5 separate regions of the Homo sapiens genome follow, and regions 1, 3, 4 and 5 are each linked to region 2. Evidence: fine-mapped expression QTL. A gene starts in region 2. Each other region holds a variant in brackets. All regions are shown on one strand. Distances are between the middles of the regions. Region 1 holds the start of LINC02811 (long intergenic non-protein coding RNA 2811). Region 2 holds the start of MYCL (MYCL proto-oncogene, bHLH transcription factor). Region 3 overlaps TRIT1 (tRNA isopentenyltransferase 1). Region 4 overlaps BMP8B (bone morphogenetic protein 8b). Region 5 overlaps LOC105378667 (a long non-coding RNA gene).

Region 1 (5,102 bases), 82 kb before region 2:
ACACAACCCACACCCCACTGCACACAGAAAGGATACGGCTGACGCTTCGTGAGCGATGCTGGTTGTCACCAAGTCACTGGTGAAACTGGGAGAGCGCCCCTGGTGAGACGGTGTGAGGATTCATGCAAAGCACGTGACAGAGGGAGTTTCAGGAAGTGAAGCTGTCCTGTGTTGCTGCTGTTTTATTAGTAACAGCAAGCTGCCCAGGCCCACACGAGGCAGGTGTGTCTCATGAGTGTTCTACGGGAGAGGAAGTGAGGCTTAGAGGCCCAAGCCAGGAGTGGAGGAGCTGCGGCTACGGGCTACGGTGCCCATGCCCACACCTGCCTCAGGAGCGCCCTCTTCCTTTGGATGATTCTTTTTTATAGACAGGGTCTTGCTCTGTCGCCCAAGCTGGAGTGCGGTGGTGCAATCATGGCTCCCTGCAGACTTGACCTCTTGGGCTCAGCTTCCCAAGTATCTGGACTACAAGCATGCACCACCACACCTGGCTGATTTTTAATTTTTTTGTAGAGATAGGGTCTTGCTATGTTGCCCAGGCTGGTCTTGAACTCCTGGACTCAAGTCCTCCTGCCTTGGCCTCCCAAAGTGCTGGGATTACAGGCGTGAGCCACCATGCCCACCCAGCCTGGATGATTCTTTTAGTCCGTCATTCATCCCATGAGCATTTGTGCCACATGTGCTCTGAGCCTGGTTCTGTGGTGGGCACTGGTGCCACCCTGGGCCCTGAGGTGCATGAGGGGGCGGAACAAATGGAAATTGAGGCAGGCTAGGCCTAGAGCCTGTGGGCTTCCTGGGACTGGGCACTGAGCAGTGAGCTCGGGAGACAGAAGGCTGAGCCCAAGGCTGTGGGCTTGTGCCACCTCTGCCTAACCAGGGTTTGTTTACCTTCCACCCAGAATCACATAATGGAGGTCCGTTCCTCCCCTGCACAGCATCCTGCCCTCAGGATAGCCTCAGGGCTACCCACACAGATGGGAGCTGCCTCATCTGGGGCCACTCCAGGGCCGGGGGTTCTGCTGGGAAGAAGGCTCCTACATCCTTGCCCCGCTGTCTGAAGCTGGTTTGGGCCAGTGAAGAGGAGCCTTCCCTGGCCGAACTCCTTTTGTCAGCCCAGGGAATATCCAGGTCAGGGGGTGGGGTTTGGCCTGGGGATCAGGGGCCCAGGGTCATGTTTGGGATTATCCTAACAGGCATTGCACCTGCATAAGACAGTGCAGGATGGGTCTGCACAAGACCATATAGAGGAGAGGTGAGCGGGGTTGAAGGCCAGTCCACACCCTGCTCCACTTGGCACTGCTGGGGGCTGGAGCAGGGCTGTATCAGCCTAGAGGAAACAGGTTCTTATTTCTGAGTCATCATGAGCACCACATAGGTTGGCAGTGCCCTGATGGCAACAGTCCCTAAAGCGCAGGGGTGGAGCAAGGCTTGATGTTGGCCTGGAGCTCCAGGGCCAGTTGCTATTTGAATGAAAGAGTTGCAGCAAGCTGGTCTTTTCCCCAAACCCATGGCCCTCAGGTGTTGCTCAGGAGAAGGAGGGATGGAATTGGCCATGGGCTACCACCTCAGGAGGCTGGACCTCTCAGAGGAGCTTCTAGTGCTTTGCTTAAGATATGTCCGCCAAGACCCATGCCAACACTCTTGGAGTCTCAGGGGCTCCTGACTTTTCATTCTCCCAGGCCCCAGTCCAGACTGACTCTCCCAAACGCCCATTGTGGATTATGTCCAAATTCCTTTGCAGGGCCATTTCTTGTTCACCACAGACACACCTGTGTCCAGAGTGCACATAAGACAAGCCACTGCTCTGAGGGGGAGCTCCTGGCTGGGGGGATTCCAGGACCTAGATCTGTGAAGCCACCTGCCTCGGACATCATGGAGGAGGATGGCAGTGTTCGGAGGCTCAGGAAGCGCAGCACCGTGCCCGGGTGGCAGTTGGCCTGGAGTCTATGCAATGTGGGGTGAACCAGGACCACTCTCTGGGACGTCCACCCAGGAGAGCCAGGAAGGTGTTCCAGGCTGGGCCCCAAGGCCTCTCTGTAGCCTCCTGAGGCCATGTAAGGACCCAACCTGTCCTGGCCCAGAAGTCAGATTCCTCAGCCAAGGAGTTGCAGGGACAAGGAGAGGTGGCCAGTGTGGTGGGAGGACGCCTTTGTTGGTGGGAGGACGCCTTTGTTGGTGGGAGGACGCCTTTGTTGGTGGGAAGACGCCTTTGTTGGTGGGAGGATGCCTTTGTTGGTGGGAGGACGCCTTTGTTGGTGGGAGGATGCCTTTGTTGTAGGTATTTTCTCAACGGTGGGGCTGGGCTGCCTGCCAGGTGCCAGGGCGCGGCTCTGGCCTCCCGCTGCACAACCCACTTTGCCGCCAAGCCCTGTACCCGGCCCAGCAGCTCCTTCCCGCGCTTCCGCTGCCAGTCCCGGGAAAGTGAGAGGCAGGATGTGTTGGGCGGGCTGAGCAGGCTGGTTCCCAGCCCACCTGGCCTCATGCTTCTGGCAAGGATCCTGAGCCTAGACAGGAGAAGGGACTCACTCAGGGCCCTCTTGGTGCTTGGCATTTAGAACTGCATTCTTCCAATTAAAAAATATGTACAAACTTTTGCTCAATAAAATGTGATAAAACTGCAATGCTGAATATGAGCTCATACACTTATTAGCTGTATGTCCACGAACAAGTTACTACTTATCTTCTCTTTAGCTCCATCTCTTTATTGAAAAGCGAGGACAAAAGAAGAAGAAAATGTAAAAATGGGGATGATAGTTGTCCTACCTCATGGGACTATTACGAGGATTTAATGGGTCGTTACATGTAAAGCTCTCAGAACAGTCTTGCACGTGGTGAGGGCTATGGAAATGTCTGCTGTGATCTTGAGCGTGATGGTGACCATCAGTGGGAACAATGCTAACCAAGAATCAGTGGCACAGAACAGAAATTCACTCAGGCAAGCTCCAGCTGAGAGCTTTTAATCACGTCTTCAGAGATGGCACATGGAACCCGAGGGTAGGGGCAGCCAGACCTCAAGAGGCCTGAGAACCAGGATCTGAAGAATGAGAAGCCCGGAAGCTCCTCTC[T/C]GTCTCTGGGCCTCACTGTCTCCTATCCACCCTCTTTCTGCACATCTGCTTCACTCTTATACCTCTGAGCAGCACGACTTCCCCCAGTTCTCTCATGGCCAAACATGGCTGGCTCTCAGGTCTCAGGTCAAGTAACCAGAGGAAGCACACTGGCTTCTCTGAATCCCAACAGCAAGATTGTGGGACAGGGAACCCATTGCCCAATTTGGGTCATGCACCCACAGCCCATGGCTGAGGGGCCGCCAGGGACCAGTCCCGTGGTGCCGAGGGAGAGCCTATAGGCTGGGCAGGCATCCCCAGGGGCATCTACTCCAATGGTGCTCTGGGCAGCAAAGAAACCAGTGTGCTAGTCCTGGTGTCACTGCAGGAGATCCCCAGTGTCGCTGGGCCCTTTTCCTCTTCTGTTCACTCTGTGATTGCTATAGTCCCTTGTCACAGCACTCAGGGTGTCTTAAAATTGTTTATGTGTCTGTTTTCCTCACTAGACTGTGATTTTCATTCATTCTCTCAATACAGTAATCACCAAGTACCAGCCATGTGCTCAGGATACAGAGATGAATCCAACTCAGTGCTTGCTGCCTCCGCAGAGGCTCAGTCTGGCTTGGCATGTGGTCATGTGAAACGGATCGTCTCCATGTCTGGTTTCTCCCAAACTCAGGTGCTAGAGACTTTGTTTCCCACAGCATTGACAGTGTCAAGATCCCACTCTTCATGAAGTTTACAAGACTCCTGAGCTGTTATGAAAAGTGAGCGTCCAGGCCAGGCGCAGTGGCTCATGCCTGTAATCCCAGCACTTTGGGATGCTGAGGCGGGTGAGGTCAGGAGTTCAAGGACCTCACCTGAGGTCAGGAGTTCAAGACCAGCCTGGTCAACATAGAGAAACCCTGTCTCTACTAAAAATACAAAAAATAGCTGGGCATAGTGGCGTGCACCTGTAATCCCAGCTACTTGGATGCTGAGGCAGGAGAATCCTTGAACCTGGGAGGTGGAGATTGCAGTGAGCCAAGATGGTGCCATCACACTCCAGCCTGGTTGACAGAACGAGACTCTGTCTCAAAAAAAGAAAAGGAAAGAAAAAGAAGGGAAGGGGAGGGGAGGGGAGGGGGAAGAAAGAAAAGAGAAGAGAAGAAAGGAAAAGAAAAGAAAAGAAAAGAAAAGAAAAAGTGAGTGTCCACAGGAAATGGTTCTGAAGGGGCCAGGCATGGGCGGGCATCACCTCCGCTGGGTGATTGAAGGGCAACAGTGTGCAGCTGACAAAAGAAAAACTTGGCTGGTGCCTATAATCCCAACGCTTTGGGAGGCCAAGGCAGGCGGATCATCTGAGGCCAGGAGTTTGAGACCAGCCTGGCCAACATGGTGAAATCCCATCTCTACTTAAAAAAAAAAAAAGAAAAAAAAATTTAGCTGGGCGAGGTGGTGCGTGCCTGTAATCCCAGCTGCTTGGGAGACTGAGGCAGAAGAATCACTTGAACCTGGGAGGCAGAGGTTGCAGTGAGCTGAGATCGTGCCACTGCACTCCAGCCTGGGTGACAGAGCAAGACTCGGGCTCAAAAAAAAAAAAAAAAAGAAAAAGAAAAAGAAAAATTTCCCAGCAAGTGAGGAGCAGGACGGTGACTGTGGCTCCTCAGCTCGGGTGACGGCTGTGCTAACTGGAGGCCACGGATGCTTACTGGTATTGCTCGGCTGCTGTAACGCACCGGCCCTGCTGCTGGGCATCTCTTGAGGCTGACTTTGCTCCTCTCCACATCTTTGCTTCCATTTCAGGCCACTCTGATCTCTTCCAAAATCAACTCGTGTCCCTATTCCAAGCATGAGCTATCCCTAACGAGCCTCCCTGTGAGCAGGATGGGGCAGACACGCCTCTAGGCTCCTTCCAGCTCACTTCTAAGGCATTAACTTTACACTCTGCCTCCTTCAGGGTCATTCTTTGGGTTCTCAAAATCCTTTCTCTCCATAAAGCTGAGCACTTGGCTTTCAAAATTATTCATGCGGGTGACCACATTGAGGTCTAGTTTGGAAGTTGAAAAACTAAATGTT
Region 2 (5,102 bases):
GTGTGCAAATGGGGAAACTGAGGCCCAGATCAGCGAAGTCCACATATCACCTTTGTAACGTTCTGGATCTCAAACTAAAATGTCCAACTTCCAAAGCAATGCTCTTTCCACTCTACCACTCCACCAGCCGTTGTAGAGATACATCTTTATTGGTTTTTTGATCTCAAGATTCTCTTTCCAGCCATTAAACAAACATAAACTCTTGGTGTAGAAAGCAAGCTGGTTAAAAATGACCTTAACACAGTGGACCAGGAAAAAAAAGACTTTTAATTTTTGTTATCCTATTTTTTCTCTCAAGTGTAGGAAAACTTCCATACCCCATTCCCCAGTTCCCTATCAAATGGTCGTGTAAAAGTTATTCCTAAAAGCTACAGTGAGCTTTCTTGGTCCTAATTTATTTGTCACTAGCCACAGTCTACACTCTACAAAAATACCCTCTCCAGGATTTCTCACGGGTGTGGAGGTCTAAGATGCCAGAATAAGAACAATGTAGTTTAGTGGCACAGGATGCCCCAGTCTGCCCTCAGCGAGGTTGCACTTGCATCAAGGATGGGAGAGGAGGGCCTGGAGTTCTACTGCCTTGACCCCAGCATGTAGCCCACAGATTGCCACAAAGTAGGGGCCAGTGAATATTTGTTGAATGCCAGGGAGCAGCTGACGCTGGAGATCTATTGAGGGGGAGCAAGAAGGACACTTTTCCATCTCAGGACAAACAGCAAGGCAAGGTGTAGTGCTTCTAAGATAAGCTACCACAAAGACCCCAAACATCAAGGAAGAGGTGCCTGGTTGGGATGGAGCATTGGGGAAGAGGGGCTGGCTAGATGGCAGAAAGCTGGAGCTGACTTGTAGTGATTGTCTATCTCTAAGCCTCAGTTTTTCCATCTGTTAATGGGGAGTGTTCATTCTTCCCTCCCTGTCTCAGGGATGCACGAGTGGTAAGTGGTGGTGGGGAGGCACGAGAAGAGGGCATTTATTATTGGCATTTTAAAGTAAAGCCAACTGGAGACCTAGGTTTTTAAAAGGACGAAGGTTTTGGCTTTGCACAAAAGGCTCTCGGCTTCTTCTCCCCCTAGGGGAGTGTGAGTTTCCTAGGGAAAGAGGCAGCAGCAAAAAAACTTCAGGTTTGGAGTGTCTCTTAAGGTACCCCCTTCAATCCCTTACAGTCCAACCCCAGTATTGTCCTCTCTAAGCGCCAACCCTCACCTCAAATCCCTTGTCCCCTGGGGCTCCAATAATCATCAAAGGGAGGCTGGCTCCCACGCCACTTTTCCAAACTGTTTACCAACACACCCACGTGCCAGACAGACACGGTTGGGGACTACACGGGCAGCTTCAGCCAAAGAGAGGCGGAGATGGCCCAAGAGCTTGAGAAGAGCCAATGCCTGACCTCAGGCAGGGGCAGAGCTTTGGCCACCCATGGGGTGGCCCCCTCTTGGATGGCTCGGGGAGGTCCTTACCCGAGTCGCTTGGGCTCTCGGACCCGGAGCAGGCCTGGGTCTTGGGTTCGCCCAGCGGACAGGGGGCGGCGGGCGCCGGGTTGCCGGCTTCGAGGCTGGGAGTGCAGTCCGGGGCGGCGGACGCCTTGGGCGGGTTCCCCCGGGGCGCGCCAGGAGCGAGCCGGTCGCTCACAGCTCTCTCCAGCCGTTCCCGGGCCGAGAAGCCGCTCCACATGCAGTCACGGCGTATGATGGAGGCGTAGTTCCTGCCCCAGCCTTTCGAGTGGCCCCGGGATTCCGCTTCGTCTCCGGTGCACCCTCCGGGCCACGGCTCCGGGGGACCAATCCCGGGGGCCGGGTCCCCTGCGCCGGGACCCAAGCCCCAGGGCGGCGACGTGGGGGGCGATGGCACCAGCTCGAATTTCTTCCAGATGTCCTCGCTGGGCGCCGTGGAGCGGTAGAAATCCTCCCCGCAGTCATAGTCGTAGAAATAGTGCTGGTACGAGTCGTAGTCCATGTCCGCTCCCTGCGGGAGGGAAGGGGGGACGTGCTGACCGGGTGCCGGCCGGGCGAAGGAGGTGTCCCCGGGTCCCTCGGCACAGTCGGCTGCCGGGCTCTCGTTCCTCCCCAACCCCACCAGCTTGCAGCCTGCGCCCAGTCCTCGCGTCCCGGGAAGCCGGGCCCCGGGTCAGAGTGGTAGGGGAAGCCAATCGCAGCGCGCGGACCCGACTGTGGGCAGCGAGTTCAAAGCAAACTTTGCCAGCGCCGCCCGGAGCGCAGCTCCCAGGGCCCGGCGGGGCCGGGCGGGGGCGCGCCGTGCCCAGAAGGCAGCCTGCAGCCAGCCCGCACCGCGGGACCCGCGCCCGTGCCCTGGCCACCCGCAGCCTCACCTCGCTCCAGCCGCCCGCCACCTGGAGCGGACCGGCTCCCCGCCGGCTCGGGGCAGCCCGGCAGCCAGCACACACGCACATGCGCGCCGCCGAGAGCGCGGCCCGCACTCACAAGCGCGCCCCCCCCGCGCGCGCGCCCTCCCTCGCTCGCGCACGGCGGCCCGGACGCTCTCGGGATCGGCGCGGGAGCGCGAGCTGCAGGCGCATTGTTTCCTGACTGCCTTATATCTCGTCGCGCGCCCGGGACCCAGGGACTGGGGGGCGGGCCCTATGGGACAAACCCCGCCCTCTCCCTGCCTACTACGGGCAGTCGACAGGTGGGGCCGGCCCCACCTCCTGGCAGCGCTCGCCCGCTCCGTTCAATCCCCGGTAGCCCCCCAAATAAATTGCACGCTGGGGAGCGCAAACAGGAGGAGGGCTGATGCGGCCCGGCGGCCGCTTGGCGGTGCCAGCCGGCTGAGCTAAACCGTGCTCCTTGCCCACTCCGAGCTGGGGAATTAGGGCTACTCCCCGCCCCACCCTGCGCGCCTACTTTCCCCGGCGCACCCCGCTGGGTTCAGGTGCGCCCGAGCCGCCGCGAGGGGTAGGGGGAGGGAAACGCGCCACCTGGCGGCCCTCAGCCCTGAACTTGGGCTGGTCCCGGCGTCCGTCTGGTCACCCGTCGGCCCGTTTCTTGAGCTCAGTGGCCCAAGCCTGGATGGCATCGAAGCGAAGATTCCGGGATTTAGAGCCCGAAACGTAACCTTCCTGAGCTTCAGTTTCATCTGTAAAATGAAGGGATGGTAATGCTTACCTCACAGGGTTGTTGTGAGGCTTCAGGGAAATAAGAGCATCTAGGGAAGGGGTCTGGTCTAGGTGGAGAGGCAGACGGCGCTGGCTTAGCCCCCGCTTTGGGGAGGCGGTGCAGAAATGAGGAATTTTTCCCAGGGCAAAGCCAGCTGAGACCCGCCATGCTCCCTCTCATCTCACACAAAACACTGTAGGAGCTGTACAGTAGAGAATGAGGATTTGGCATCTGGAAAATACTGCAGGACCAAGTTGTTTCAAGTTTTGCCCTGCATTGCTGGCCAAGATGATAGATAACCCCTTTGTATAATCTTCTTTTTAAATTTTAAATATATTTTGTTAAGAGACAGGGTCTCACTCAGCGTCAAGGCTGGAGTGCAGTGGCTCGATCATGACTCGCTGCAGCCTCGAACTCCTGGGCTCAAATGATCCTCCCTCCTTAGCCTCCGAAAGTGCAGGGATTACAGGCACGGGTCACCGTGCTGGGTCCCCCTTTGTGTCATCTTCTACACAGATGACCTTTGGTGGAAGAGAAAAAATTAAACTATACGGCCAGTCTGAGATTTAGGCCAGAGGAGAGTAACTTGGGACAGCAGCCAATACATCTAGATTCCTCCACCTGGCATCAAGGTCTGGTGTCTGTCTACCCCAGCCTGATTGTCTGCTGTCTCTCTCTTTCCCTCCCACCCCTGTGGTCTAAGAACACCAAACTACTCACTGTTGGCAGACGGAAGTGAGAAGGGCAAGCAATTCAGTGTGGTTGGAGCATGGGACACGGATGTGTGTTGTTATATGGGTTGGGAAGGCAGGGAAAATGACAGCCTTCCGTTTTAGATACGTTGGGTCTGTGCTGCATGTGGGACATCTTGAAGGCAGAAACCTGCTCCTACTTGCTTTGTGATTTCTGCACCTAGAACAGCTTCTGGCAGACATTTGTGAACTAACTGACTTACTGAGGGACTCAGCTAACCAGATTTCACTGAGACAGCTTGTGTGCCCTGCTTTGTGCTAAACGGAAGACACAAATCAGAAGGGTTCCAGGTTTGGTTGCAGCCCCAAGGCACAGGCATTGGATTGTCCTTTAGTGACTTTTCTCTGGTCCACAGATGTCTGAGATGGTTGCTGTACTAGTCTGGGTTATTGGTTACAAATAACAAAAACCAACCTTAGGCAGGGCACAGTGGCTCACGCCTGTAATCCCAGCACTTTGGGAGGCTGAGGCGGGCAGATCACAAGGTCAGGAGATCGAGACCATCCTGGCTAACACGGTGAAACCCCATCTCTACTAAAAATACAAGAAAATTAGCCGGGTGTCGTGGTGGGCACCTGTAGTCCCAGCTACTCAGGAGGCTGAGGCAGGAGAATGGCGTGAACCCGGGAGGCGGAGCTCACAGTGAGCCGAGATTGCGCCATTGCACTCCAGCCTGGGCGACAGAGCGAGACTCTGTCTCAAAACAAAAAAACAAAACAAAACAAACAAACAAAAAACCAACCTTAGACAAATGTAAGCAGAAAATGACTTTATTGGAATAATTGGTGGTATAGACCTCAAGGGAGGCTGGAAATTTATGTTTGGAGAATGGGCCTTCTTTACCTAGACTACAGCCCCCACCCTGCAGCTCTTCCCATGGTTTCATTGTAGATGATATATGGGGGCAACCAGGAGGTGCTGCCCCTCCTCAAGAAGTAGGAAAAAGGAAATTAAGTTGTCTTCTGAGAGTTAACACTGCTTCTTCACTTTGCATACTTTTGTTTGTTTAATGTCTTCCTCGTCAGACTGTAAACTGAATGAGGGCAGACAAATGTCAGCCTTATTCATGGCTGTACCCCAGGGCTTTAGAACAAAGCCTGGCACATCATGGGTGCTGAGTATATGACTGAACACAAAACTCTAATGTTTTAGTTTTTGCGTTTTTTTTTTTTTTCCTTTAAGACAAGTCTCACTCTGTTGCCCAGGCTAGAGTGCAGTGGCGCAATCTCGGCTCACTGT
Region 3 (5,102 bases), 29 kb before region 2:
ACTACTGGGAGAAATACAAAATGGTACAGTCATTTTAGAAAACAGTTTGGTAGTCTCCTGTAAAGTTAAACCATAAAGTTACCAAACAGCCTAGCAATCCCACTCTTAGGTATTTACTCAAATGAAATTTCACACTAAAACCTGTACATGAATGTTTACAATAGCTTTCTTTATAATCACCAAAAACCAGAAACCCAGATGTCCTTTAATAGGTGAATAGACACCAGGCGCGGTAGCTCACGCCTGTAATCCCAGCACTTTAGGAGGCTGAGGAGGGCGGATCACCTGAGATCAGGAGTTCAAGACCAGCCTGACCAATATGGAGAAACTATGTCTCTACTAAAAATACAAAATTAGCTGGGCGTGGTCGCACATGCCTGTAATCTCAGCTATTCGGGAGGCTGAGGCAGGAGAATCATTTGAACCCGGGAGGCGGAGGTTGCAGTAAGCCAAGATTGCACCACTGCACCCCAGCCTGGGCAACAAGGGAGAAACTCCGTCTCATAAAAAAAAAAGGTGACTAGACAAACTATGGTACATCCAAACAGTGGAATACTACTCAGCAATAAAGAGCATTGGACGCATGCAACAACATGGAAGAATTTTAAACGTATTTTGCTGGCCAGGTGCAGTGGCTCACGCCTATAATCGGAGCCTGAGGCAGGTGGATTGCTTGAGCTCAGGAGTTCCAGACCAGCCTGGGCAACGTGGTGAAACCGTCTCTACAAAAAATACAAAAATGAGCCAGGTGTGGTGGCACAGGCCTATAGTCCCAGCTACTTGGGGTGCTGAGGTAGGAGGATTGCTTGAGCCCAGGAAGTTGAGGCTGCAGTGAGCCGAGATGGCGCCACTGCACCCCACCCTGGGCAACAGAATGAGACCCTGTCTCCAATCAATCAATCAATCTACCTTTTAAAAAAATGTATTTTGCTAAGTGAAAAAAGCCAAACCTCAAAGGCTACATATTGTATGATTACATTTTAAGACATTCTGGAAAAGGCAAAACAATAGGGATGGAAAACAGGTAAGTTGTTGCCAGAGATTGAAGGAGATAGAGGGGTTGACTACAAAGGGGCCACTATAAGGGATTTTTTAGGGTGATAGAACTGTTCAGTATGGTACTGTGGGGTATATATCTGACTCTATGCATCTGTCAAAACCCATAGAACTAAACATCATAAAGAGTACACTTTACTATATGTATGCAAAAAATTTTTAAAAATGTTTTTTTGGGACAGAGTCTTGCTTTGTTGTCCAGGCTAGAGTGCAGTGGCACCATCATGACTCACTGCAGCCTTGACCTCCCTGGCTCAAGCCATCCTCCTGCTTGAGCCAGGAGAAATTGGGACTACAGGTATGTGCTACCAGGCCTGACTAATTTTTTTTTTTTTTTTTTTTTTTGTAGAGATGGGCTCTCACTATGTTACCCAAGCTGATCTCAAACTTCTAGGCTCAAGCAATCTTCCCTCCTTGGCATCCCAAAGTGCTTGGATTAGAGGTGTGAACCACTGCAGCTGGCCACTGTATGCAAATTTTTTAAAATAACCAGAATATCTGGGAACCCAGGATAGACTACAGACTGTAACAAATGAAATCTAACTGCATTACAAACGTCTGATATAACCTCAGAGAGGAAAACAAAAGGAGCTGATCTAAGTAACTTCATAAAACAATGTTACTACTCGATACTGTAAGGATAAAAACAAACAAACAAACTGTAGGCAAACATTGTACTCTAGTTGGTAAATCTGTTTCTCACAGGAGTAATCACTGAAACTACAGGTTACACAAATAAGTAAATATACTATAGGGAATGAGAGCTAAATTTCTTACTCTGAGAAAGAAGTCACAAATAAGCAAGGGGGGAAGACTAGAATGAATCTTGTGGTGCTGGATTAGTCAGAGATACCAGTATAAACCCATGCTTATTTTAATATACATACAGATAGAGAAATAAATATAAATGTGTGTATATATAGATTAATATACATACATACATTTCCTAGCTCTTTCCACTGAAAGGGACTAGAAGCATCTTGTAATACCAGACAGGAAGTACTAAACACACACACACACACACACACACACACAGAGAGAGAGAGAAAGAGAGAGAAAGGAAGGAAGGGAGGGAGGGAGGGAGGGAAGAAGGGAAGAAGTGAGGGAGGGGAAGGAAAAGGAAGGAAAAGGAAGAAAGGAAGAAAACAAAAAGAAAGAAAGAAAAGAAAGACTCTGATGAATGCTAAAATCAGAGGGTGAAACTTTAAGGAGAAATAGGACATCTGCATAGCCTGAGGGTATCTCCCCTAAAATATTTATTAATTACTGTGGTGCTTTTAACATATGTCCGCAAATTATTTGATAAGCTTTCATCCTGGAAATGAAGCTTAATTCTCCTTCTATTCAGTGTGGGCCAGACTTGGCAAATGATTTCCAACAAATAAGACTAGGTACTGTCATTTTATGGAAATGGAAAAGAAAAATAACACAAAAAGAGAAAAATC[G/A]TGACTTTTTCAGTGGAGAAACGTGTATACAATCTCAACCAAATGATCAAAGTTACCATCACCAGTAATAAGCCATGCTAATACTATGTTGATATCATACTTTGATATGATCCAATGAGAAGGGTACTTCACTTCTGTGGTATACTTTCCCAAAATCCATAATGCCAAGTCTAATCATGAGAAACCAAAACCCAAATGGAGAGACATCTACAAAAGAGCTGACCAGTACCCTTCAAAAGTATCAAGGTCGTAAAAGACAAGGAAAGACTGAAAACTGTCAAAGATTGGAGGACACTAAAGATACATGATGACTAACTGCAGTATAGTATCCTAAATTGAATCCTGAAATGGAAAAGGGACATAAGTGAAAAAACTGGTGAAATCCAAGACTATAATTTAGTTAATAGTATTGTACCTATATCAATTTCTTAGTTTTAATAAATGTACCATGATGATGTAAGATATTAATATTAGGACAAGGTAGATGAAGGGTATACAGGAACTCTTGGTACTATCTTTGAAACTCTTGTGTAAATCTACAACTATTTCGGGCCAGGCACAGTGTCTCACACCTGTAATCCCAGCACTTTGGGAGGCAGAGACGGATGGATCACCTGAGGTCGGGAGTTCGAGACCAGCCTGACCCACATGGAGAAACCCCATCTCTACTAAAAATACAAAATTAGCTGGTTATGGTGGCGTATGCCTGTAGTCCCAGGAGGCTGGGGCAGGAGAATTGCTTGAACCCGGGGGATGGAGGCTGCAGTGAGCCGAGATCACACCATTGCACTCCAGCCTGGGCAACAAGAGCGAAACTCTGTCTCAAAAAAATAAAAATAAAAATAAAAATCTACAACTATTTCAAAATCAAAATTAAACCTGTAATCTCAGCTACTTGGAAGGTGAAGTGGGACGACTGCTTGAGCCCAGGAGTTTGAAACCAGCCTGGGTAACACAGTAAGACCGTGTCTCAATCAATCAATCAATAAAAAATTATAAAAACAATAATATAGGACAGTTTCTTAACTTTAGTACAATTAATATTTGGGGCCAAATAATTCTGTTATGGGAAGTTGTCCTGTGCCTACTAGAATGTTAGCAATGTCTCTGGCCTCTACCCATTAGATGCCAGGAACCCACCTCCCCAGTTATTAGAACCAAAAATGTCTCCAGGGATTGCCAAACGTCCCCTAGGAGGCCAAATCACCCCAAGTTGAGACTACTGATATAGCTATATACATTAACATATAAAGATATCCATAACATAGTGTTAAAAGAAAATAGAATAGTATCTAACCTCTGAGTCAATTTATGTAATAACATATACACACATGACACATGTGCTTAAATATATATACAAATGTCTGGAAGGATGTGAACCAAAATCATTACTCCAGGATGCTAAGACTATGGTTAAATTGTCTCTGTACTTTTCAGTATTATTGGATTTTTTTAATAAGCATGTCTCATTTTTCTTTTCTTTTTTTTTTTGAGATGGAGTTTCGCTCTTGTTGCCCAGGCTGGAGTGCAATGGCGTGATCTCGGCTCACTGCAACCTCCGCCTCCTGGGTTCAAGTGATTCTCCTGCCTTAGTCTCCTGAGTAGCTGAGATTACAGGCATGCACCACCATGCTTGACTAATTTTTTTGTATTTTTAGTGGAGATAGGGTTTCTCCATGTTGGTCAGGCTGGTCTCGAGCTCCTGACCTCAGGTGATCTGCCCGCCTCAGCCTCCCAAAGTGCTGGAATTATAGGCGTGAGCCACTGTGCCCGGCCCCCGCATGTCTCATTTTTCTGAACACAAAAATGCTTTGTTCTCATTTTTTTCATAGTGCTTCCAATTCAATAACCAAAATCCTGTTGGTTCTGTTTACAAAATATCAAAATGGTTACCTATTCTCTCCAGCCAAAGCCCAACTCCAGCCTCTCTCACCCAGACTAATGTAACAGAATCCTAAACTGTTTTTCCTTCTCTAACCCACTCTCCACCCAGTTACTTCATAAAATAGATTTACAGGCCAGGTGCAGTGGCTCACGCCTGTAATTCCAACCCTTTGGGAGCCCGAGGTGGGCAGATCACGAGGTCAGGAGTTCGAGACCAGCCTGACCAACATGGTGAAACCCTGTCTCTACCAAAAATACAAAAATTAGCCAGGCGTGGTGGCATGCGTCTGTAATCCCAGCTACTCAGGAGGCTAAGGCAGGAGACTTGCTTGAACCCGGGAGGTGGAGGTTGCAGTGAGCTGAGATTGCGCCACTGCACTCCAGCCTGGGTGACAGAGCGAGACTCTGTCTTGAAAAAAAAAAATAGACTTACTACCACTTCCCTCTTTAAAACCTCAAACCTCATGGCATGACTTTTGAGGGCCTCAAAAATTTGTTCCCAGGGTCTATATTTTTAGTTTTACCTCCTACCACTGTCCCTCAAGTACCCTCTATGCCAGATAGTTGCTGGTCATTCCTTGAAAACATACCATGCATTTTCTTAACTTTGCCCATACTGTTCTTTTGTCAGTAATATTATTCTTCCCACTTTTCTGCTTGATAAAATGTACACAGTGGTACAGAGGAAAAGAATGGGATGGAGGATGAATGAATAAA
Region 4 (5,102 bases), 120 kb before region 2:
ATTAAATAAATTAGACCATAATCGTGTAAATTGTATCTTAGGTTAGGCTCTCTGGGCAACAGACACTGGGTCGGAAAGTTTACTGGGAAAACTGGAAAGTTTACTGCTTTTTGTAGTGAATGAAGGGAGCAAGTTTTGGATGCACCCACAACAAAGGCCTCAGACAACTGAGACCACACTGGGAGCTCTGGGGGCTGGTGGCCCTTTAGAGCTGTCTCTCTTTAAGGCAAGGGGGCTGGGCACTGGTACTGCCATAGACCAGCTGTTGGATGGTGGGTGTCCCCAGGGATGGTGCCTAACCTTGGGCAGTTCTTTAGGCCCAGTCAATCAATACCTAGAGAAGGGTAGGGCGTGGTGGCTCTCGCCTGTAATCCCAGCACTTTGGGAGGCTGAGGTGGGTGGATCACCTGAGGTCAGGAGTTCAGGATCAGCCTGACTAACATGATGAAACCCCATCTCTACTAAAAATACAAAATTAGCCGTGCGTGGTGGCGGGTGCCTGTAATCCCAGCTACTTGGGAGGGTGAGACAGAAGAATTGCTTGAACCCAAGGAGGTTGCAGTGAGCCAAGATCGCACCATTGCACTCCAGCATGGGTGACAAGAGCAAAACTCCATCTCAAAAAAAAAAAAAACAAAAAAAACCTAGAGAAGGACTCCCCTGTGAGCTGTCAGCAGCCGGCACTCCAGGCAGCTGGGTCACGAGCGACTCAATGCTGAAGAGAAGCTCTGGGAAGCCCCCCACAGCATCCACTACAAGGATGCCTAGGTGGAATGAGGATCTCACCCAGGCAGCCTGGTCAGATTCTGGAGCTATGCTTTTTACTACTCTGCTCTAGGTCCCTAAGTAAATGACTGGGGGATGGGGCATAATCCGCAGGCCCTTCCCTCATAATACAGCCACTTATTGAGCAGTGCCAGACACTTGCTTTGTTTTTGTTTTTGTTTTTTTTTGAGATGGCATTTCGCTCCTGTTGCTCAGGCTGGAGTGCAATGGCGCGATCTCGGCTCACTGCAACCTCCACCTCTTGGATTCAAGCAATTCTCCTGCCTCAGCCTCCCAAGTAGCTGGGATTACAGGCGCCTGCCACCACAGCCGGCTAATTTTTGTATTTTTAGTAGAGACGGGGTTTCACCATGTTGTCCAGGCTTGTCTTTAACTCCTGACCTCAGGTGATCCGCCCCCGCTTGGCCTCCCAAAGTGCTGGGATTACAGACGTGAGCTTCCGTGCCTGGCCAGACACTTGCTAGGTTTTTATGTGCCTTAACCTATTTAATCATTGTATTATGATACAGGCATTATTATTATTATTTAGACAGAGTCTTGCTCTGTCTCCCAGGCAACCTCCATCTCCCAGGTTCCAGCAATTCTCTCGCCTCAGCCGCCTGAGTAGTTAGGACTACAGTCCCGCGCCACCATGCCTGGCTAATTTTTTTTGCATTTTTAGTAGAGACAAGGTTTCACCATGTTGGCCAGGCTGGTCTTGAACTCCTGACCTCAAGTGATCCGCACACCACCACACCTGGCCGGATACAGGCATTATTATCCCAGTTTTAAAGATGAGGAAACTGAGATGCCGAGACTTTAAATGATCTGTTCAACAGCTCATAGCTCTTAAGCAGTAGACTCAGAATTGAAAGCCAGTGAGCCCCACTCCAGGGTCACTAACCACCACTCTGCTGCCCCACTTCCAGGGCCTACCCTCCTACAGCTGTGATCTACCTTTCATATCTGCTCCTGTGGGTCTGTGCATCCAGGACCCGGGGCCAGTCACTTACACTCTTTGAGACTCAGCTTCCTCCTCTGTGAATGAGGGCAGTCATAATCATTTACTCAGGGGTGAGAAAACACTGCGGAAATGGGTAGGACCAGTCACTAGGGATGGAAAGGGTGCACCATTCTGGTGGCCAGACAGAACTTTGGGGAAAAGGGACCCACCTTCAATTATTGCAAGGACAAATACCTTTGGGCATACAGTCACCCTAATAGTTGACTTTTAAGATGGATAAAAGATTTATTGTTAAATGAAAAACAACAAAGTTGCAAAACAGTGAGCATTAACGTA[T/C]GCAGTTAAAAAAAAGAAAGAAAAGAAAACGCTGGGCACAGTGGTTCATGCCTGTAATCCCAGCACTTTGGGAGGCTGAGGCAGGAGGATCAGATGAGGCCAGGAGTTTGAGACCAGCCTGGGCAATATAATGAGATCCCGCCTCTACAAAAGATTTGAAGCAATTAGTTGGACATGGTGGTGCACACCTGTAGTTCTAGCCATTCAGGAGGCTGAGGTGAGAACATTGCTTGAGGCCAGGAGTTTGCAGTTGCAGTGAGCTATGACCATGCCACTGCATTCCAGTCTGGGTGAAAGAGCAAGACCCTGTCTCTGAAAATAAAAACATATTTTTTAAGCAGTAGTCTCAGTTTACATCACACGTTCCCATTCAACACAGTCCATTTCAGCAGCACACACTGCATTTAACGGTGGGCCAGGCCCTGGGCTGTGTGGAGAGGCAGCTGCTATTTTGGAGAAGAGCAGAAGATGTGGAGGCAGGGGGACAATCTGCTGTGTGGCCTTAGGAAAACCACCTATCTGCTCTGAGCCTCTCTCTCCTCTCTTTCAAACACAGATGTGACGGCAATTGTGAGATACCAATGAAGGAAGAGATGCAGAGGTTCTGGGCACGTGGGCATCGCTGGGTATCATCTCACACAAGCCCACAACAGCCCCATAAGATGAGTATCTCCATTTTACAGAGGAGGAAACTGAGGCTTGGGGAGGTTGACTGGAAAGCCCAGATCACACTGAGATCAGGTGTTGGCGTCAGGATGCAAATTCCTTGTGTGTGGGTCTCAGGTCAGAAACCCCCAATCTAGCCCTGTCTGTCCTGCCATTGTTCAGCCCCTCCTGTTTCCCGATGGGGCGTTGCTGTCTAGCACACCCGACAATTACCTTTAGGGCTCATGTATGTATTATGTGTCTCTAGACTAGAAAGTCATCTCCCTGAGGGCAGGGACTTTACTTCTCTCATTGTTATATCCCCAGCAACTAGAACTCTGCCTGGTCCGTGGTAGGTGCTACAGAACTATTTGCTGAATGAATGAATGGGAAAATGAAAGAGGTCCCTGGTAAAGAACCAAAGGAAGTGGCCCTGGGGCCCACGGAGATGGTGCCACCCTTCTAGGTCACACGGCTGGCAAGGGCAGAGCAGGACCCGGGCCAGGTCCCGAATTCCCACTCAGTCCTGCTTCTCCCAAATCCAGACGGCTCTGTTCATCAACACCCCTGTCCATGGCCACCGGAGACCACAGGAGCAAATCTGTCTGGTTCAGGAAGGGATCAGGACAAAAATGAAGCTGCCTGCATTCTGATCCTGGCTGGACTTCTGCCTGCTAGGCCTGCTTATGCCTCAGTTTCTCAATCTGGAACATGGGCACCTGCCTCTCTGCTGAGATGGGTGGAGAAGGATTCAGAAGGAGTGTGCAGAGGTGGTCCTTCCTGCCATCCTTCCTCCCTCAGGAGGGGCCGGGCTGCCCTGAGGCACTGGGGCCAAGGCATGGCGGTGTTGTGAGAAGGCGCCTCTGCCACAGAGCCACAGGGTCAGGGCTGGGAGGCACCTTGCTTTTCTGATGCCATCACCGTAGAATGGACGAGAAAGCAGAGGCCCAGGGAAGGGAAGGGCCGTGGCTCAGGACATGCAGGAGTTAATGGTGGGCCCAGGCAGCACAAGAACCTGGGTCCTGCCTCCCAGCTCAGGGCTCTCCCCTCCCTGAGCACAGAGAGACCAGGGACAGAATCCAACCGCTCCATCACTGTCCTGCCCAAGAGAGCCCAGGTCTACAGGCTGATATGGATGACAGGCCAGGCAGGGCCCCGGCTCTGACCCCAGCCCTGGCCTCCCAGTGCAGGCTCTGAACATCAGGACGCAGGCTTGGCTTCCTAAAGCACCTGCTCTGCACGGAGACCTGAGCCATGGTGGGAGGCCTATGAGAGCCCCGCCCCCTGGGTCCCACAGGCTGCCATCAAGAGTTGGGCCCTACGGGCACCAGACCTGGCTATTCAGGAGTCAGATGAAGCTGATAGGAGAGGTGGAGCCGGCAGGAGCAGGTGTGGGAGCCTGCGTGTGGGCGGTGACACCACAGTGACCCTGCTATTAGATCCCGTGGTGGCCTCTGCCCACATGACTGTAATCTCAGCTACTCGGGAGGCTGAGGCAGGAGAAGGGCCACCAACCTCCAGGGGCCTCCAAACATGGAGAGCATCCTGGTATGTGTCTAATCCATGCCCCCCCACCGCCCCACCCAGCCTCAGTAATTACCAGTTAAAGCTACTCTAACTGAGAGAGTTCTACTAGTGCAGTTAGCACAGCAGAATAAAGAAGGCCTTTCTGACAGCTGGCTGCGCCCACCCACAGCCTGGGCTTCCACTAACAATGATCTGCTTGTTAATCTCGCAGCGCTGGAGGCCCCAAGTCTTCATGAAATGCACAAAGCTGGTGTGGGAAGAAGCTGGGATTTGAAATCCACAGCCGTGGATGTCACCCCGGATGTGCGGTGTGGCCCTGGGCTGGCTATTTAACCTCTCTGAGCCCATGAAACAGGGCTGGCAAAACAGTCTCACATGAGTTAAATGAGGAATTGTAAGGCTGTGAAAGTTCACATGCTACTTTTCATTCTAAAAACAGGTACAAACACTTTTTGATTGGCTTTTAGAATCCATTTCTAGGTTTTACATGTGTATAAGACATGTGGAGATGTTCCTGTCACCTCCGAACTAGGCCACAGCTGGGAGGGCCTGGGGCCAACAGTGCCCAGGTCCAGGTTCACCCTCTGAGGGGAGCAGCACAGGCTTTCTACTCCTGCCCCTCTACCAATCACACAACAACCCTGAGGACAGATCACCAGGCACCTCATTTTACAAGGAGCAACGAAGGCTGAGAGGGTGAGGAACTTTCCTAAGGTCACACAGAGGGGTAGGCCCTGCCCAATTCATAGCAATAGCCCCACCAGGCTGTGCATGCCTTGACCCAGGGGATGCCAGGGGAGGTCGGATGTGGGCTGGGTGGTGACGCATTCTGATGGGCGGCTCCCTGGGGACATTCTTGGACGAC
Region 5 (5,102 bases), 69 kb before region 2:
TTTGTTTGAGATGGAGTCTCACTCTGTTGCCCAAGCTGGAGTGCAGTGGCTGATTTTGGCTCACTGCAACCTCTGCCTCCTGGGCTCAAGCAATCCCCCTGCCTCAGCCTCGTGAGTTGCTGGGACTACAGGCACATGCCACCATGCCTGGTCTCGAACTCCTGACCTCAAACGATCCCCTCACCTCAGCCTCCCAAAGTGCTGGGATTACAGGCGTGAGCCTTGGTGCCAGGCCTCATGTTTTTTCAGATGCCATTTCCTCAGGAAAGCCTTCCCAGACTCTTCTAGAACGAGTCAGGTAAAATCTTGTGTATTCCCTAAACGACTCTATTACAGCATTTATCATATTCACTGGGATAGCATGCAAGACTCCAGCTCTCTGAAGACAGGAACTGTCTTGTTCACTGATATATCTCTAGCACCTAGAATAGTGAATGATAAGCACTCATTTAAGTCTGTTGAATTAATAGGTATTCCTAATTATAAAGCTGTTTGACTCCTAAAGTCCTCTACTTGCCTTCATATTAGTCCAGAACTGGTTCAACTTACCACGTACCTGATGAAAAATACAACTACTTTTTAATTCAAAATAACTAGAAGTGGCATAATCCAGTAAAAAGAACACTACTGCTAAACCAGGAGACCAGGGTTCCAGGCATAGCTCTGCTACTTACTAACTCTTTGTGTTGCTGTTGGTGACTTACTTAACCTCTCTGGGACTCACTTTCTCTGTCTGCTCAATTATGTGGCTAATCTGGATCAGAGATTTTCAAAGTGTGTCCCACAGCCGGGGGGCGGGGAAGGGGGTGGGCACTAAATCAGAGGGACCAGAAGACTGTGCACCCTACCCAGACCTGAAGCCAGTCTAGTTCAGTATATATTATATATTGCAATTCATGTATGACTTGGGAGAAGGAAAAAAAAAAAAGGATCCACAGCTAAAAACAAGTTTGAAAACAACTGAAACATGATCACCGAATTCTCTGCACCCTTTACATGCTGATATTTAAAACAACAGAAAGCCACGAATGTAGTAAGAAGGTAGTTTTGCCGGGCACGGTGGCTCACGCCTATAATCCCAGCATTTTGGGAGGCCAAGACGGGTGGATCACCTGAGATTTCAGGAGTTCGAAACCAGCCTGGCCAACATGGCGAAACCCCATCTCTACTAAAAGTACAAAAATTAGCCGGAGGTTGCAGTGAACCGAGATCGCGCCATTGCACTCCAGCCTGGGCGACAGAGAGAGTCCATCTCAAAAAAAAAAAAAAAAAAAAAAAAAGAAGGTAGTTTCTAAAAAGCACTTGAAGAGTCTGACTGCCAAAGTTCAGAGAGAGTAAGCTGACACTTTTGTCTGCCATCAGGAACCCACCAGTCTCCAAGCAACTTGACTTCATTATGCAGATCCAGCAAGACACAGAGACATTTTTGAATCCACAAATAACTTCTATGTAAGTCTTTATACCTTGGAGCCGGACACAGTGGCTCACACCTATAATCCCAGCACTTTGGGAGGTCAAGACGGGAGCATCGCTTGAGACCAGGAGGTCAAGACCAGCCTGGGCAACATGGCAAAACCTCATTTCTACAAAAAAACAAAATTACCTGGGCATGGTGGCAGGTGCCTGTGGTCCCAACCTCCCTAGGCTAAGATGGGAGGATCACCTGCGCCCAGGAGTGCCACTGCACTCCAACCTGGGTGACAGAGTGAGACCCTGTCTCAAAAATATAAAAAGTCTTTATACCTCGATCCCCTTCATATTAACAAGGAGGCTCAGGCAGAAGGCACAGACTTAAATGGTTTTCCTTTATGCCTTGCTTTCAGGTCATTTGTCACTTCACTTCTGGTGACTCAGAGTCTGACCCCAGCCTCACACTTGATAATGCACCATGCACGGTTCTTGCAGAGATAGGGCCTTCCTTTTGCATGGGAAGTACTCGGTAGTTACGGTGCGCTAGTCAGGGTTGTAGTCAGAGGACCTGGAGTTCTCTCATCTGCCACCTACTCTGTGTCACTGCTATGGACACCTATTATTTGGTCTACTCAGCACCAATCCCATCCCTGCCCTCTTCCTGAAAACTCTCGTGTTCCCTGGCTTCATTCTATCATACTGTTCTACAGGGAGGGCCATGTTCTTAGATGGTACGCTGTCCTTCTTAATCCAAGGGTAGACAACAGAATTCAGCTCTACTCAATTGCGTCTTTTCCTGGGGCTTTTAAACTTGGGATTTGGTCCACTTCTTTTCAGTGAAGAAAAGCTGTAAGATGTGAGGTGTGGCAGCTTCCAATGACCACGACCACGTGAAGAAAGCTGGTTTGCATGGAGAGAAACGTGAAATCGGCACGCTGAGAAGAGATGAGGCAGTGCTGGTAGTGTCTGAGTCCTTGGGAGCAATTGTTCCTGAGGCCCAGCTGCACCTTGCCTGTCCTTTCAGGAGAAGCTCAGTTGTTTGACTTTTAGATTCCATAAGCCAACAAATCGTCTTTTATACCTAAATTAGTTTAAACTGGCTTTCAATCCCTTACAACTGAACTAACACCAACCCTGTGTTAAGTCACTGAAATACTGTGAGTCTGTTTCTTCATTTGTAGAAACGACCTCAAATGTTTTTGGCAAATACTAACAAGATATGTAGTTTTGTTAAAACCATACTGGGCCATAAATTTCTAAGGAATGACTACTACAGATATCTCATGATGAAGATAATGGCAAGTACCACCCAGAAGGCATATGGACTTAGTTAAGCTCAGCCCTGCTGCTAGAAAACCAAGTGTCTTACTGACTAGCAGACAGCAACTCCACAGTGGACACAAATGCTTGTCTGCCCAGGTGCCCTCCCCTCCTACCAACCCGCTCACCCTTCTCCTCTGGGAATCACTCCACCTCCACTCCATCCTTTCCATGGGAACTGTCCTGTCCTTTCAGGAATCCATCTCCAGACTGGCTGATGGGCCTCAGGATAAGCACTAGACTCAAGCTGGGCTAAAAGATCCCTTTCCTGGGACTTTTACTTTTAAAAAATGGTGGTAAAATTCACTTTTAAGCTTATAGTTCAGTAATGTTAAGTGTATTACAGTATGAAAGTGTATTAAGTAGTTTTAAGCGTATAGTTCAGTGGTGTTAAGCATATTCACATTGTTGTGCAACTAATTTCCAGAACTTTTGCATCTTACAAAACT[GAA/G]ACTCTATCCCATTAAACTTCTCCATTTACCCTTCCCTCCACCCCCAGCCAACACCATACTGTTTCTATGAATTTGACTATTCTAGATACCTCATGTAAGTGGAACTATACCATATTTGTCTTTTGGTGACTGGCTTTTTTTTTTTTTTTTTTTGCTTTGCTGCCCACGCTGGAGTGCAGTGGCGCCAAGGCTCACTGCAGCCTTGCCCTCCCGGGCTCAAGCATCATCTCACCTCTCATCCCCGAGTGCTGGGTAATAATTCTTTTATTTTTGTAGAGGTGGGTCTCATTCTGTTGCCCAGGCTGGTCTCAAAACTCCAGGCTCAAGCAATCCTCCCACCTCAGCCTCCCAATGTGGCATGAGCCACTGCGCCCGGCCTGACTGGCTTTCATGCAGCATAATGTCCTCAAAGTTGTAGCATGCGTCAGAACTTCCTTCCTTGCTAAGGGTGAATATTCCATCATATGTACTTACATTTTGTTTATCCACTCACTCTTATTTATTTTTGAGATAGGGTCTGCCTCATTCTGTCACCCAGGATCTGGAGTGCGGTGACACAATCACAGCTCACTGCAGCCTTGACCTCTTGGGCTTAAGTGATCCTCCCACCTCAGCCTCTTAAGTAGTTGGGACTACAGGCACACACCATCACACCCAGCTAATCTGTTTATTTTTTGTAGAGATGGGCTCTTACTGTGTTGCCCAGGCTGGTCTTGAACTCCTGGGCTCAAGCGATCCTCCTGCCTTGGCCTCCCAAAGTGCTGGGATAACAGGCACAAGCCACCATGTGCAGCCCTTAGATTCACTTTTTTTTTTTTTTTTTTTTTTGAGATGTAGTCTCACTCTGTCGCCCAGGCTGGAGCACAGTGGCGTGATCTCGGTTCATTGCAACCTCCACCTCCTGGGTTCGAGTGATTCTCCTGCCTCAGCCTCCCAAGTAGCTGGGATTACAGGCCTGCGCCACACCCAGCTGATTTTTGTATTTCTAGTAGAGACAGGGTTTCACTATGTTGGCCAGACTGGTCTCGAACTCCTGACCCCAGGTGATCCACCCGCCTCAGCCTCCCAAAGTGCTGGGATTACAGGTGTGCACCACCACACCCGGCCTAGATTCACTCTTGATGGACAACTGGGCTGCTTCTACCCCTTGGCTATTGTAAAGAACGCTGCTATGCAGAACAAGGGTGTATCTCCCTGAGACCCTGCTTTCAGGTCTTTGGGATATATCCCCAGAGGGGGGACTGCTGGATCATATGGCGGTTCCCTTTTTAATTTTCTGAGGAACTGCCATACTATTTTCCACAGCAGCTGTACTATTTTACATTCTCACCAACAGTGCAAAGGGTTCCAATTTTTTCACATTCTTGCCAACACTTGTTATCTTCTGGGTTAATTTGTTTTGTTTTGTTTTATAGCAGCCATTCTAATGGGTACGGGGTGTCCTAGGGCTTTTGAACTTAGAACCAGAGAAAACATCCGCACAATCTGTCCCCAGTTGTCAAGGCCATAAGAGGTGAAACACAGGTGCTACTAGCAGCCCTGTCTCCTGCCATGTAGAGAAAGCCTGTTTACAGTGAGAGAGGAGTGAGCTGATTTGCAGAGAAAAGAGAAAGTCTCTAAAGCCTCAGATTGGGTAGTACAAGTTGTGGCTGGAGCCTAGATACTTTCCTGCCCTTGAATTTGATGAGACACCTCATTAACCCAATCATAAATCCACCTTTTTACTTAAGTTAGAGTTGTTTCATTTGCAACCATGATTCTTGCCATAAACATCTTTGTACAAGAGTTAGTTCTTCAGTCTTTTCTTTTTTTTTTTTTTAACCTTTTCTTCCTTTGATTCTTTCTTAGAAGTAGATGGGATATAAATAATTTGTACATTCAAAAACCCTAAATTTGTACATTCAAAAACCCTAAAGAAAT

The links.
Region 1: its variant is fine-mapped to the expression of MYCL in whole blood (TOPMed, PIP above 0.99).
Region 3: its variant is fine-mapped to the expression of MYCL in whole blood (INTERVAL, PIP above 0.99).
Region 4: its variant is fine-mapped to the expression of MYCL in whole blood (TOPMed, PIP above 0.99).
Region 5: its variant is fine-mapped to the expression of MYCL in whole blood (TOPMed, PIP above 0.99). The same link has a PIP of 0.9 or more in blood mononuclear cells.

The regions. Positions count from the first base shown.
Region 1 is chr1:39,817,323-39,822,424 of GRCh38, forward strand. It overlaps LINC02811 (long intergenic non-protein coding RNA 2811), which reads right to left and starts at 138. Exons shown (of 4, transcript NR_186710.1): 1 at 1-138. RefSeq lists enhancers at 1-416, 265-434. The variant T/C (reference allele first, on the strand shown) is at 3,066.
Region 2 is chr1:39,899,482-39,904,583 of GRCh38, forward strand. It overlaps MYCL (MYCL proto-oncogene, bHLH transcription factor), which reads right to left and starts at 2,436. Exons shown (of 2, transcript NM_001033081.3): 1 at 1,458-2,436. The coding sequence starts at 1,953. RefSeq lists silencers at 1,690-1,809, 2,220-2,539, 2,800-3,009.
Region 3 is chr1:39,870,691-39,875,792 of GRCh38, forward strand. All of the region lies in intron 1 of TRIT1 (tRNA isopentenyltransferase 1), which reads right to left. Among named protein-coding and RNA genes, the nearest start is that of MYCL-AS1, 9.9 kb to the right of the region's middle. The variant G/A (reference allele first, on the strand shown) is at 2,502.
Region 4 is chr1:39,781,532-39,786,633 of GRCh38, forward strand. All of the region lies in intron 1 of BMP8B (bone morphogenetic protein 8b), which reads right to left. Among named protein-coding and RNA genes, the nearest start is that of BMP8B-AS1, 4.1 kb to the left of the region's middle. The variant T/C (reference allele first, on the strand shown) is at 2,066.
Region 5 is chr1:39,830,609-39,835,710 of GRCh38, forward strand. It overlaps LOC105378667 (a long non-coding RNA gene), which reads left to right. Exons shown (of 4, transcript XR_947221.3): 3 at 1,363-1,449. Among named protein-coding and RNA genes, the nearest start is that of LINC02811, 16 kb to the left of the region's middle. The variant GAA/G (reference allele first, on the strand shown) is at 3,180.